Homo sapiens: one gene and its partner. The protein of the gene in region 1 interacts with the protein of each later gene in a pairwise test. Each region holds a gene or a part of one and is shown in the gene's direction. Other genes may lie near its edges. The genes, in order: C9orf43 and RABGAP1L.

Evidence for each region.
Region 2: the proteins of C9orf43 (region 1) and RABGAP1L interact in binary tests that used the Homo sapiens proteins (3 or more experiments, as listed by UniProt).

The regions. Positions count from the first base shown.
Region 1 is NC_000009.12:113,420,609-113,427,888, forward strand, and holds part of C9orf43 (uncharacterized protein C9orf43), read left to right. Parts: intron 1-110; exon of another isoform or gene 111-200; intron 201-494; coding exon 495-595; intron 596-1,940; coding exon 1,941-1,977; intron 1,978-2,717; coding exon 2,718-2,890; intron 2,891-3,557; coding exon 3,558-3,708; intron 3,709-4,410; coding exon 4,411-4,468; intron 4,469-4,735; coding exon 4,736-4,812; intron 4,813-5,034; coding exon 5,035-5,122; intron 5,123-7,280.
Region 2 is NC_000001.11:174,274,256-174,281,535, forward strand, and holds part of RABGAP1L (rab GTPase-activating protein 1-like), read left to right. Parts: intron 1-844; exon of another isoform or gene 845-934; intron 935-1,577; coding exon 1,578-1,680; intron 1,681-4,357; coding exon 4,358-4,524; intron 4,525-7,280. UniProt on the Homo sapiens protein: GTP-hydrolysis activating protein (GAP) for small GTPase RAB22A, converting active RAB22A-GTP to the inactive form RAB22A-GDP. Plays a role in endocytosis and intracellular protein transport.

The DNA.
Region 1 (7,280 bases):
TAGGATCCTAAATAGCTAAATGTGAGAAGAGTTAGCCTTTGACTTTTATATAAATGCCTATAATTGTAGTCAGACTGTAAAAGAAAACACCTTGCTTCTGTTTCTATCAGTTCTCTTCCTGCTCCCAAACTGCAGATTGTAATGTCTGTGGGATCTAAGTCTTTGGAGTGGAGTGGGCAGGATAAGTAATGTTCCTGTAGGTAAGCCCCAGGGCACCCTCATATGGGATTGGATTGGGAGTTGCTAAATGCTACCCTAATGGCACAGGGAAGCAGGGGAGATTATCTGCTTATTAATACTCACTCTTGCAGATACCTATACTGATATTTGATGGAGTAGTCTGTTTTTTTTGGGAGAATATTATGAAGATATCTTGAAGATGGGAAACTTAAAATCATCTTCTGTGCCACCAGACTCTTTGCTTAGCATATCCTTAATCTGATATAGGAGCTTAGCACCTCAAGCCATACATAGGCTTTATATCTTTCTCTTAGTTTCCAGTGTTGAATTTGAATGAGACGCAACTTCCCTGCCCTGAAGATGTTAGAAATATGGTTGTATTGTGGATCCCAGAAGAAACAGAGATACATGTGAGGTGAGTATCATATCTGGAACTCAGAGGACTTTGACTCTATAAATCCCTGATGTCTTCTGCAGCGTCCTTTTTGTGATCTCCCATTTAGCCAGCTCATTGCAAGTAGCAGGAGGCCAAGCAGAGAAGGTCGTGGTCTGTTGCATCTGCCTTTTGCTACACTGGAATTTTAATGTAATGCATTTTGAGATTCATGCTGTGGGACTTCTCCATATCAAATTTTACACGGCAGTAAATAGCATACAAGATAGGGCTCAACTTACTTATAAGGCTTGACTAAGAAATAAATGCTCTCTCTTAGTTTTTCTTATTAGCCACTTGCAACAAGTGAAAAAGTTCTCAGTGAAGCATGTGAATCTCTGTTCTCAACCCCAGGGCCTAGTACAGTGTACAAAAGCAATAGCATATAGGACTTGTGTACAAAAGAGTGTGACAAAGACCATTTGGTGAAGGCCCAAAGGCTTGCTAATATTGACAACCATGGGGAAAGTGTTTGGTTCTTCTTTCCTGATCCTTGAGGCTTTCAGGTTCTTAAGTGACATTTAGAGATGATGAAACTTAAGAATTTCTTTTTATTTCTTTTGTTTTTCTTTTTAAAAAATAATCCTGTGAGTGCTTCTCTCTATATATATGCATTTGTGTGTGTGTATATATGGTATAAACAAATGAAAAACAACCCTAAGGGTTTATTTCCTTTCGTGTGAAAGAAGCTCAGAAGTAGGCAGGCTAGGTCATGTGAGCTCCATGAGATAATTAGAAACCAGGGCTCCTTCTAGCTTTTTGGGCCGTCATCCTTAGCCCATGGATTCCAACTTCTAAGGAGTTTCATGGCTGCTTTTAAGGTATAAGTTGGCTACTAGAGATCCAGCTATCATATCCACGTCCCAGGCAAGGAGGAAGAGGTCAGAGCAAAAAATACTTCTTACCAAACATCTCTGTGTCAAGCAGTGAGGATTTAGTGAACCAAATAGATTTGGTCCCTGTCCTGTTGGAGCCTTGTCAGGGGGAGTCAGCCATTACAGACATAACCACACCTACATATATCATTTCTAATTTGGATTCATGCTATGAAAGTAGGTAACCGGATTGCCTGAGAGAATAATGGGAAACCTAATTTAGATATGAGGATGGGGGGTCTTTTTAGCAGAAGGTACTTGGGCAGCAGTTACTGCTGGGTTCCCAACCAGCTATCTTTGAGTACTGATCAAAGATAGGAATCTTTGTGGTCATCATTCACAAATATCCTTGGAGCTTCTGTTTAAGATATCTGGGAATAAGTTGTGCTTACTCTTATTTCAAGTCCAGCTGAGAAGCATGTTTTGTTTTGTTTTGTTTTGTTTTTCTCCAGCCAGCATGGGAAGAAGAAAAGAAAGAACTCGGCAGTGGTGAGTTTGATGTTTTTGTGCAAACCTTTATAATATTGCTATGTAGAGTTTATTTTGTTTTCCTTTCAGGTCTCCTCCACCTTACCCCCGTTCTTTCCTGAAATGATCCAAATCTGCTAAAGAAAACCCTTCTTTAGGAATAATTAACCAAACCATTCTCTATTCAGAGACTCCTTTTTTCTGTCTCCTTCCTATAGGGAGATGAAGAGCACCTTGAGATAATAGGAGGAACTGTTGCGTGTTCAGGGGGGGAGTTTTTGGTCAATTAAAAACGAATCCCCAACGTGATCATATAGAATTTCAATGGACTAGGGGTTATAAGACCTGGGCTTCTAACTCTAATTGTACCATTTATGAGTAAATGTGACCTTGGATAAGTCACTGTAAGACTGCTATGTCCATGAGAGTAGTGTCTTGGTTCATTTTGTTCATTGCTGAATCCCCATCCCTAGCCCTGTGCCTGACACATAATTAGACAATAAATTTTTGTTCAGTTTGTTGAGTGAGTAAACGAATGACCTTTCTGGAAAATGAAACAAAACAACGAATCCCTGTATGATCTGAATACAACAACAGAGTTGGGAGCTTGAGAGGGAAACATGTGGCGGCCCTCATCGTTCAGAGGAGGCAACCATGGCTGGAGTACATGCCAGGGTAGTGTTGAGAGGCTAGAATGTTGATGGAAAGGACTAGGCTAAAAAGAATGCTTTGGAGAATTCTTTCCATTGTTTCTCTTCCAGAAAAGCAAGTCATTTCTGGGTCTCTCTGGAAATCAGTCCGCAGGAACACGAGTAGGAACACCAGGGATGATCGTGCCTCCCCCAACCCCAGTGCAATTGTCTGAACAATTCAGTTCAGATTTCCTACCTCTCTGGGCTCAATCCGAAGCGTTACCTCAGGATCTACTGAAGGAGTAAGTATCATGTAGGTCTGTGGGAGAGCCAGAGCACCTGCTTTTTACTGAAGCTGGGATGGGTCTAAACAGTGTGCTTTTTCTGAGTAGGACTGGGAGAAAACTATCACCCCGATTTGTTTACTGAACTCTTGGACTTACCAACAGGCAGGGATGACCATCATAACCACCACCATTTGTCACACTTACCATTTGCCTGGCCCTGTGCTAGGCATATCACATGTACTTTCATTTAAATTTGCACTAGGAGGTAGGCACTATCACTGTCTTCTTTTTATAGGTGAATTATGAATAAGTGGTAGGCAGAATATGTGGTCTGCAGTGAGATGACCTTTGAATTTTACATTGAAACTTAACTGGCTATATGAATTTTGGTAATGTATTTAGCCTCTTAAAGCTTCATTTTCCTCATTTGCAAAGTGGGAGTAATATCTGTTCTCAGGTGTTGTAAAAGCACATGAGCCTGACATAGAATCAGCACTGAGTATATGCAGCTATGATGATCGTAGTTGCATCAGAAAAGTGTTACCAAATGAACACTTGTTGGTACAGGCCTTTTCAGACCCAAAGTGGAAATTTCTTGGAGCCCTTTACATCTCTTTCTCCTCAGCCATGCTTTCCGGGAAGAGCTGTTGCTGACTGTCTGGCTGTCCTCTGTCCCCTTCAGACTTTTGCCAGGTGGAAAGCAAACCATGCTCTGTCCAGAGATGAAGATAAAATTGGCCATGATGAAAAAGAATCTTCCCTTGGAAAAGAACCGACCTGACAGTGTGATTTCTTCTAAGATGTTTCTATCTATACACCGCCTCACCCTGGAAGTAAGAGCTAGGAAACAGCAGGGAAGAAGCCTATGTGAAAATTCAAACCCATCTCTCCTCAAATCTGGAAGAGTTGACATTCTATTCCTTATCTCCCTTCTGCCTTTCCACTCTGAACCCATGCCCCAGAGAAGGCTGGGCTCTATGTATGTAAAAGCCAGTCGATGGGGAAGTGTTGAGAGAGCAATGTTCTCTATTTCTTTCTTTTTTTTTTTTTTTTCTTTTTTGAGAGACTGGGTCTCACTCTGTCACCCAGGGTGTAGTGCAGTGGTTGATCATGGCTCACTGCAGCCTTGACCTGCTGGGATGAAGTCATCCTCCTACCTCAGCCTCCAGAGTAGCTGGGACTACAGGTGTGCGCCACCATGGCTGGCTAATTTTTAATTTTTTGTAGAGACAGGGTCTCACTATGTTGCCTAGGCTGGTTTCGAACTCCTGAGCTCAGGTGATCTGCCCACCTCAGCCTCCCAAAGTGCTGGGATTACAGGCATGAGCCACCATGCCTGGCCATGTTCTCTATTTCTTCTGCACTTTGTTCCCCACACCTTTTCCCTTCCTCCGTAGCCCCTGGTACAATGCTGCAAAACACTGGGTTCTTAAAATGTGCTTGTTGACTGGATGAATAAACGCATTTGGGGGATACATTTGGAGAAAGGGAAAGACCTGCAGTAGAGCTTTTCTTTTTCTTTTTTCTTTCTCCAGAGACCAGCACTGCGATATCCTGAACGTTTGAAGAAATTACATAACCTGAAGACAGAAGGTAGATTTGCTGTTGCTGCTGGATCTCTAAGCACCATTTTCTGTTAGCCCACATTTCTCATACTTTAACGTGGTCCAATTCAGTTATATTTGTGGCCACAGTCATACAGGGTCACATGTAGAACTCAGGAAACAATAGTTTCAGGAAGCAGCCCCTCTGGCTTGGTCCTTACCAGGGAGTCACCATTGTGAAGGAAGGCACAGCAGGCATTCCAGTGGGAGAGAGGGGGCTGTTAGAAGAGGATCAAGCTGGCTCTCTGGTCACCAGGTTACAGGAAACAGCAGCAGCGGCAGCAGCAGCAGCAGCAGCAACAGAAGAAGGTGAAAACACCTATTAAGAAACAGGTAGAGTGGCAGTGAGGGGCTTGCTGGGACTGGGAGAGGTCTACAGCCTGGAATGGGAAGGGATGTATGAAAGGTGGGGGTCTCCTTGTTTTCTATCTGGTTATAGATAAAAAGTTCTTGTCTGGTTGTAGATGTTAAATTCCTTCTTTTTGATATTCCTTTTGAAAAAAGTTTTCTTTACTTCCAAAAATCCTAATTTGTTCCTCCTGATGTGGGTTTCAGGAGGCTAAAAAGAAAGCCAAGAGTGATCCAGGGATCCAGAGCACTTCACATAAACATCCAGTTACCACCGTTCATGACCGTCTCTATGGTAAGGGGAATATATGCTTGGTTGGGGGTGATAGGATCCCTGAGGGGTAGGTATCTGAGGGCAGGAAAAGCTAAACATGCTCTTGTCATTTTGAGACCTGCCTTTGTCAGGCACTCAGAGTTTCTTGGAATGCTTCAGTCTGTCTGGTCTCTCATGCACCATCCTTCCCTCATAAATTTGCTAAACAAACAAGCTGAGCCAGATGTCTGCTTCACATGAGGGCTTGAAAGATGACCATGAACATGAATCCCAGTCATCTTTTCCTCAGGTTCTACCTTAGAAAAGGCAGAGCACTTTGAGGATCAGGAGAGGAACAAGCCCAGGTTACTGAAGAGAAAACCCTGAGGGCCCATTTTCCAATGAGGCAGGGAGAGCTGGGGCCCCTCACTAGAACCCCAAAAGAGTTCTAAGGAAGCAGAGCTCTGGGGCCCCCTAACCTTCCTGCCACAAGGTAGAGAGTCTCTGGAGCCTCACGTTAAAATCAACACATTGTCTAGCCCCATCCAGGAGTCAGGGAGCCAACTCTTGTCAGGCAGTTCTTTTGCTCCAGTGCTCATGCTGGACACAAGAATGGACATCTCCCCTTTTTGGAGTCGTTATTATGTCTGAGCTCAGGCATATACTTACCCCTATCCCTCCAAAATTTTTCAACTTGAGTGGAGAATGGGAGGAGGGAGAAAGAATCCCCCCAAACTTTGGAGGATCGTTGTGCCCGTCTCAGACTGGACATTGCTGACTTTAATATGAAAACAACTGTTTAATCATCAGAAAGAGCTCTCCAATCCTGGGGCACTGGGAGGGCTGAGATGAGGTTTCCTGAGAAGGATGTTGCCCTCTTGCTTTCCTTCCCATCTCACTTAGTTGTCTGATGCCAATGATCTGCTCTAACCTGAAGGTTGGAAGGTTCCTGCCCTTCTTATGGGAGGTGGACAGAATCAGGGCTTGGCCCCGGGCAGGAGGTGATGTATCCAAGGTTAACACTCCATCTAGGGTGACCACTACCACTCCCCTGAATTCCGTTCTGGTGCCTTTTGTACCCCTTCCCAATGCCTCCAATAGGAGCAATTTTGCTTGGGTGACTGGGGTGCCTCTGTGAGTCATGTTCATAGAGCAGTGGCCTGTCCTCACTGAGTTGAGAAAGGCTTTATGGAAGAGATGATTTTTGCATTGAATCTTGAGTATGTGTGGGAGTTTTCCTGATATGGGAAAGAACTCTTGAGAGGGAATAGCCTGTGCAAAGGCATCTAGGAGGATCACAGCTGCTCAGGAAACACTGAGCAGTTGAGTGTGGTTGTGGGGTTGGGTATTTAAGGGAGAGTGGTCTATCACACCAAAGAGGTAGGCAGGGGCTTGTATGGACTGCTAAGTCTTTTGACCTTTATCATCCAGGCCAGTGGTGCTCCGCCTTGACTGTACACTAAGACCAATTGTGAAGCTTTTATTTATTTATTTATTTGAGACGGAGTTTCGCTCTTGTTGCCCAGGCTGGAGTGCCATGGTGTGATCTCGGCTCACCACAACCTCTGCCTTCTGGGTCCAGGTTCAAGCAATTCTCCTGCCTTAGCCTCCCCGGTAGCTGGGATTATAGGCATGCACCACCACGCCTGGCTAAGATTTTGTATTTTTAGTAGAAACGGGGTTTCTCCATGTTGGTCAGGCTGGTCTCGAACTCCCAACCTCAGGTGATCTGCCCGCCTCGGCCTCCCAAAATGTTGGGATTACAGGCGTGAGCCACTGCGCCCAGCCAAGAAGCTTTTAAAACTCTAATACTCAGACTGTGTCCCAGCTATTAAGTCAGAATTTCTGATGGTAGGAACTAGGCCTCAGTGTTTTTTGTTTGTTTGTTTTTTAAAGCTCTTCATTTCTCCCAGTGTACAGCTAAGGTGAGAACCAGTGCTGGTAGGGAGTCCATGGAAATGCTATAATTTAGCATAATACCTCTGGTGGCAGCTTGGAAGATGTTTGTTTAGGGAAAGGGAGATTGAGAAAAGAATGAATGAATCTACCTAGGGACTAGTTGGGGAAGCAGCTGATGCAAAAGAAACATAAAACTAGAGGTTTTTGTTTTTGCTTTGTTTATGGGTACATGAGGGATGGCGCAAGAAGATGAGTCACATTCTGGTAAGAGGAGTATTCATATGCTGTGAAAAAGTAGATT
Region 2 (7,280 bases), on another chromosome or scaffold:
AGATATATTTTTCAGTGAAATAGCCAGATTACTTATATATAACAGTCATATGCTGAGTAAGAAAATTTCCGTGAATGATGGACCCATACTTTAAGGTCGTCCCGTAAGATTATAATGTATTTTTACTGTACCTTTTCTGTGTTTAGGTACACAAATGGTATTGTTATAGTTGCTATAGTATTTGGTACAGTAACGTGCTGTACAAGTTTGTAGCCTTGGAGCAACAGCCTAGTTGTGTAGCCCCTATACCATCTAGGTTTTTATAAGTACGGTGTATTCTATTTGCATAAAGAAATCACTTAATGACACATAACTTAGAACATAACCCTATCATTAAGCAACAGGTGACTCTGTGTGTGTGTGTGTGTGTGTGTGTGTGTGTGTAGAGGAGAGAAAGAGACCATTATCATATGAGTGTGTTGGGGCTGCTGAGAGGGTTTCGTTTACAAGTGACCTTGAGTGTATTTCATCTCTGGAATGCATGGTCCCTGCGCTCAAGCTACACAATCTGATTAGTGAAGTATTACTAATACACTAGAAAAATATACATAGTAATTACCAAATGACTGACACAATTTTATAGGGGGTTCAGAGAAACATCTGTGAATGGGTAATAATGAAAAAAGAAAAGTTTTTCTCTTTGTTTTAGTCTGACCCTTTTAACAGTCTCTATTCATAATGTGAGGAAATCGCTACAAAAACTGAAATATTGTAGATACTGTTCATTTGCATATGGAAATACTTGTATGCTGTGTGTTGTTCTTTCATGGGACAAACTCTACCCCTCCTCTCTCCACACACATATACACAAGCTATAAGTAGCCTAGCTTTCGCCATAGGAGTTGCTGGCTTTTTTAGTGAGAGTCAAGAGCTGGCTTGGTAAAGTCTTAAAGAATGGAGAAGAGGAGGAAGGAGAGAAGGGAAGAAAGAGGGAGTAAGTGTAACAGTAGAGGGAGAGAGTTAATACACTTGGATGCTGCTTACAAACCAAAAATTAGTCTCCTAATACTAATTTATGATTGTAAGAAAGTATATAAATATCTGACATATAGAAAATAGACAAGTGTTAATTTTAAAGGTATTAATTGCTACAAACTAAATTAATATTTTAAGAATTCATTAAAAATTAGAATATTAGAAGAAAAATATTAACTTTCCCTACTGTGATTAGCTACTAGTTCAGTTTAACTGTCTTCAGCTAATTCTATATTATTGTTTTAATAGAAACCATATACATTCTTATGTGTATATGAGATTTGGACAATTGGTGTCAAGATCAAGTTAAATACAACTTTGTAACAATATTATGTTTTTTTGATTCAGCATGTAAGTATATGCCTCCTTTTATCCAAGGGTACATGTCTTTAAATAGAAACTGTGCTTGAAGAAAGCTGTAGAAGAATTTAATATTTAAATAAATGCTTTTGTAGGATGAAAAGAATTTACAGTGAATATAAAGCTCCTGCTTGACTGTTAATCTAAATTTTAATAATTTGTATTGCTTAAAGTAAGATGTAATTTAAAGTAGTGATTTTTTTGATGTCTTTTATCAGTAATTACTGTTTGAATTTTTATAGGAATCCATGGGAAAGAGCTATGATGGGAGAGCTTATGTCATCACTGGCATGTGGAACCCCAATGCACCAGTATTTCTGGCACTTAACGAGGAAACCCCAAAAGGTGACTTTTCTTAAAAGATCCCTTATTGTTTGCTTTACATTTTATATTATGAACAATGTTGCTTGTCATGTTTTAAAAAAAATTTGGAACTCAAAGTGGACTTATTCTTTCATTGAGAATTTGAGGTTCATTTTTATTCTTTATGCTTCTATGGGGGAAATCTCCACTATTTAAAAAAATCCTCCCCAAAAGATATGTGAATTATTATTATTGTTATTATTTTAAGAGACAGGGTCTCACTCTGTTGCCCAGGGTAGAGTATAGGGGCATTATAGCTCACTGTAACCTCAAACTGTCATGCTCAAGCAATCCTCCCACCTCAGCCTCCTGAGTAGCTATTAAATAGAACTACAGGTGTGTGCTGCCATGCATGGCTAATTTTTAAATTTTATTTTTGTAGCGATGGGGTCATGCTTTGTTGCCCAGGCTTGTCTTGAACCTTTGACCTCAACTGATCTTCTTGCCTTCCAAAGCACTGGGATTACAGATGTGAGCCACTGCACCTGGCCTGAATTAATTTTATTAGATTATAGAGAAAGCATTTGGGCTTTGTTTTTCATATACCACTATAGAGTTATTTCATTTGTGGAGACTAGTGATGGAGAAATATTAAAGAAAATGATGAAAAGGAAATATTTTAGAATTTTGAATATTTTTAAATTATTAACTATTTTTGCATTATAGTTTACTTATAGTTTTTCATTTATTAATTATTGGCTCCAGTCTTTTGGCCTTCGGGATGCTTGTAATATATATTAAATATTTCAGTTGTAGCAAATAGTTTTTTCTTAGTTTTTTAACTTTTCATATTATTTATCATGTCTAGTATTGAACAGAATGTATAAATGTTGAATAGTCACATTTTTCGTTGTTCCATTGTGTTTTTTCATTCCTACTTCATCCAGATAGCTGTTAATTGCCTGTTTTTTGCCCCTTCATTATCTACTTTTAAACTAAATTTAAAGTTTTACCTGCCGAGTTATATGCCTACCCTAAGTGCTTTACTGTCATTAAACCATTAATTCATATTTAGAATATAATGGATCAGTTTGTTTTATCATTAATTTTTATATTATTTAGTTTATACCCACAGTAGACTTTTGGTTACTGACAGGAAGCATTCGTGAATACTGATATGAAAATATAATATGTTAATGAAGGGCATTAAAATGATAATTATTCTTTCATTTCCTTAAAGAGAGTATTCACCATTTATATAAATCACATACATTGATCACATATTAAGCTGTCTAAAAATAAAGGCTAAACAGAAAAAAAGATTATATAAAATTTAACTTTTCATTTATTAGCAGTAAATAATTTTTAGACCCACAATTTGTTATTTCTGGAGACAGGCTTGCAAATACCTGTAACTTCTTTCTTATACTTGTTCAGAAGGAAGCCACAAAAATGATAAAAATAAGCCAGTTGACAGTTTTGAAGAACAAAATATAAGAATTTTGCATATCAAGTTATAAAAATAGTTTTTATGTTTTTAATGTAACACCTAGTTTAGTTTTATTTTGCAATAAAATATATATTTGGTCCACAAAAGAAAATTTATTTATAATTTATTCTATTAAACTATATAATAGTATATTATAATATTCTGATTCAAAGTATACATTTTAAATTTAACATTATCTCATATGCCACACAAAAATGTTGCCCTGATTTTTAAAATTTCTAAATTATGTCCTTGAAATTACACATTACTCAGAGAATGTGTGATCAAATAAAGTTTGATTTTTATGGAAGAAGTTTAGAACCTGAGAGATGAAAAGTCTTGGATCTTTCCACTGCACTAAGATCCAGTTGAATGTTATATTCTGTCTTGTGTTATTACTCCTTACTCCTTTCTCTAAGGTCCTCCAGGTCAAGTATAATGTCTAACAAATTTTAGTTTCTCTTGAATTGGCAGGTGTATTTAGTAAGACTGTATTTAGTAAGAATGTAATAAAATTGTTATTGAATTTGAGAAGTAGTTGATGAATCTGAATGTTATATAATATTTAAAAACACTATTGAGGGTTTCTTCTAGTGGTGGCCTTGGTTATTTGGACTTTCCTTTAACAGAGAACTAAAAATTGTAAAGAAAATAAATTTTAAAAAATATTTAAAAAGGAATGAGGAAATTACAAAATGGTATGGAATGACCAGGCCATAGATTCAAAAACCTCAATGAGGCCAGGTGTGGTGGCTCACGCTTGTAATCCCAGCACTTTGGGAGGCTGATGGGGGTGGATCACCAGAGGTCAGGAGTTTGAGACCAGCCTGGCCAACATGGTGAAACCCCGTCTGTAGTAAAAATATTTTAAAAATCAGCTGGGTGTTGTGGCGGGCACCTGTAATCCCAGCTACTTGGGAGGCTGAGGCAGGAGAATTGCTTGAGCCCTGGAGGCGGAGGTTGCAGTGAGCCAAGATCGCTCCATTGTACTCCAGCCTGGGTGAGACTCTGTCTCAAAACAACAAACACTTAGGATTATTAGTTCCTAAGAAACATGCTTGGAGTACTTGCATACTTATTTAATCAAAATGTGAATAGAACAGTTAAAAATAAACATAGAAGGTATTACAATTGTAAAGAACTTTAATTCTTTCATAAGTGAGGAAACTTTGTTTAAAGTAGACAAGGAATAATAAAGCTCGCATAAAACCCAGAAAATTTCTACTACAGATAAGCAAGTATACATGACTGTGGCAGTGGATATGGTAGTCACAGAGGTGGTGGAGCCTGTTCGCTTTCTCCTGGAGACAGTAGTCCGTGTGTACCCTGCAAATGAGCGATTTTGGTATTTCAGCAGAAAGACTTTCACAGAGACTTTCTTCATGAGATTGAAACAGGTAGGACCTTTTTGTTCTCTTCATATATAGTAACAAACATTTTTCTTTCCACACTTCTTTTTTAATGCCAAGATAATTCCTGAAGTTGCAAAACAATACAATTCCTCAAAGAAATCAAATGATATTTGAAGTCAACCAATAGAGTGTTTGAAAAAGTCACATCTAGGTAATATTAGCTAAAAAAACCCAGCAAGTTTAATAATTACATACTTTTTCCCTAGAAACCTGTAATGTATGAACCTTCTTAACAGAAATATTGACTGCATATAAAACAACGTTTCTGCCTTTTATAAACAATTACTTAAAACCAAAAAGGCAGTGCACAGAAATATCATATGCTTATAAAATTTTAATGAAAATGTTTCTAAGAAATACCTAATTTCTATAGTTATTTCTGCCTGTAATATTAGATAGACAATATTATATGAACATCTTGTTTGACTCATCAGTGAGGTTATAAAATTATTTTAATATTAAATGAACAAAATTATGGTTTCTATGATATCCTCAAATTAGGCAGTATTAGTAGATAAAATATGTAACTTTTGTATTATAGCAAAGGAAGCAGATAATAATGAAAAATAACTTGAATGCTAATTGTGTGAGTTTTTAAAAAATCAGGATAAAAATGCTCTATTAGAATAATGAACATCTTTTATATGCTGTTTTTGTTAGTACTTTCATTCTCCCAAGTTTTAAAATGCTTGCTGCTTCATATACTATAATATGTGGACTGCTGTGTGATAAAAGCAGGCACCAGTACAGGAAACAAATATAGAAGCCTCTTACCCATTTTCATATTAAAAAAACTGCCATGGCGCATCTCGGCTTTATATACTATGTACTTGGAAATTATTGTGGTTTTAAAAAAATCTTTCATAAAATTATTATGGCTGTTATTTGACTCAGTTTTTATTACTGTGTGAACTGCTTTTATAGCATATTCTAATGAAGGTTATGTGAGCAATATTCAAACTTCAGTCTCCTGAGCATCTTTTAATATTTTATTATGAGACTTTTTTCCTGTCTTCCTTCCTCCCCATCCTTCTTTTTTAAAAAAATAGCTTAGTTATGACTATCCAATAATTCTTCATTTTGAGCCAAAGAATTATTCATAGTTGCATAATCGTGAATAAAGGAGCTGGAGCTGTATAGAAAGTTGTCATTCTTCTAATGATGATAAATTATAATGTAAATTATACCTCCTAGAGATCTGAGAAAATGTTAGGTTTTTCCCAGTTCTAGTACTTTTGACTGTCTGTCTGCCTGGAGAGAGAGAGAGAGAGAGAGAGAGAGAGAGAGAGAGAGAGAGACATTAAAGTAATTGTTAAAATTCATGTAAGTAATTATTGCAAGACCTGAGACTATAACTCCTTACCTTAAGCCAGAATATGCTGCTGTAAGGCCAGACTAGCTTCTTTCTACACCTCCAAAAGGTGGGTTGGTTTGGGGTGGTTGATGGTAATCTGGAGATGTTGGTCTACACTATACAACATTGGTAGAAAGAATGAATTAGGTGATTACCTAATGCAATTCAAAGTAACCTTTGAAAATCTGGGTCCAGGCCATTACTACTTTAAAGAAATAAAGAGAGAATGCATTGATTTCAGTTCTAAGTGATTTAGACACCTAGAACTTTTTCTTTCATTCTGAGAGTGTTGAACTTATTGAATGAAACCAGAACTTGTCCTGTACCCAGACAGGATTAGACCAGACTCCTGGGGGCAACACCAAAGTACATGAGATGCCCTGTTCCCAAACTATTTTTTCTTGGCAACTTTCTTCTCTCAAATATAGCAGAACTTTATGTGTGGGCAGTGGGGATGTATGAAAGTCTGCTTTGTTCCTGTTTACTGTCCACTCAGGGCCAAATGGCATTTCATTTCATTCATTGTCCATTTACTGGGAGCAAGGAGAGCACTTAACAAGAGGATGGAAACTAGAGTCTGGGAAAGTAAACTAGAGGCTGGGAAAGTAAACTAGAGAAAGTCCTTTTGTGTCCGGAATTGGTTCCTTTCAGTGGGTTCTTGGTCTTGCTGACTTCAAGAATGAAGCCGCGGACCCTTGCGGTGAGTGTTACAGTTCTTAAAGATGGTGTGTCCAGAGTTTGTTCCTTCAGATGTACAGATGTGTCTGGAGTTTCTTCCTTCTGGTGGGTTAATGGTCTCACTGACTTCAAGAGTGAAGCCGCAGACCTTTGCAGTGAGTGTTACAGCTCTTAAAGGTGGCGTGTCTGGAGTTGTTTGATCCTCCCGGTGGGTTCGTGATCTTGCTGGCTTCAGGAGTGAAGCTGCAGACCTTCGCGGTGAGTGTTACAGCTCATAAAGGTAGTGCGGACCCAAAGAGTGAGCAACAGCAAGATTTACTGTGAAGAGCAAAAGAACAAAGCTTCCACAGAGTGGAAGAGGACCCGAGCGGGTTGCTGCTGCTGGCTTAGGTGGCCAGCTTTTATTCCCTTATTTGGCCCAGCCTGCGCCCTGCTGATTGGTCCATTTTACAGAGCACTGATTGGTCCATTTTACAGAGCGCTGATTGGTCCATTTTACAGAGTGCTGATTGGCCTGTTTTTACAGAGTGCTGTTTGGTGTGTTTACAAACCATTAGCTAGACACAGAGCACTGACTGGTGCGTTTTTACAGAGTGCTGATTGGTGTGTTTACAAACCTTTAGCTAGACAGAGTGCTGATTGGTGCGTTTACGCTCCTTTAGCTGGACAGAAAAGTTCTCCAAGTCCCACCCGACCCAGAAGCCCAGCC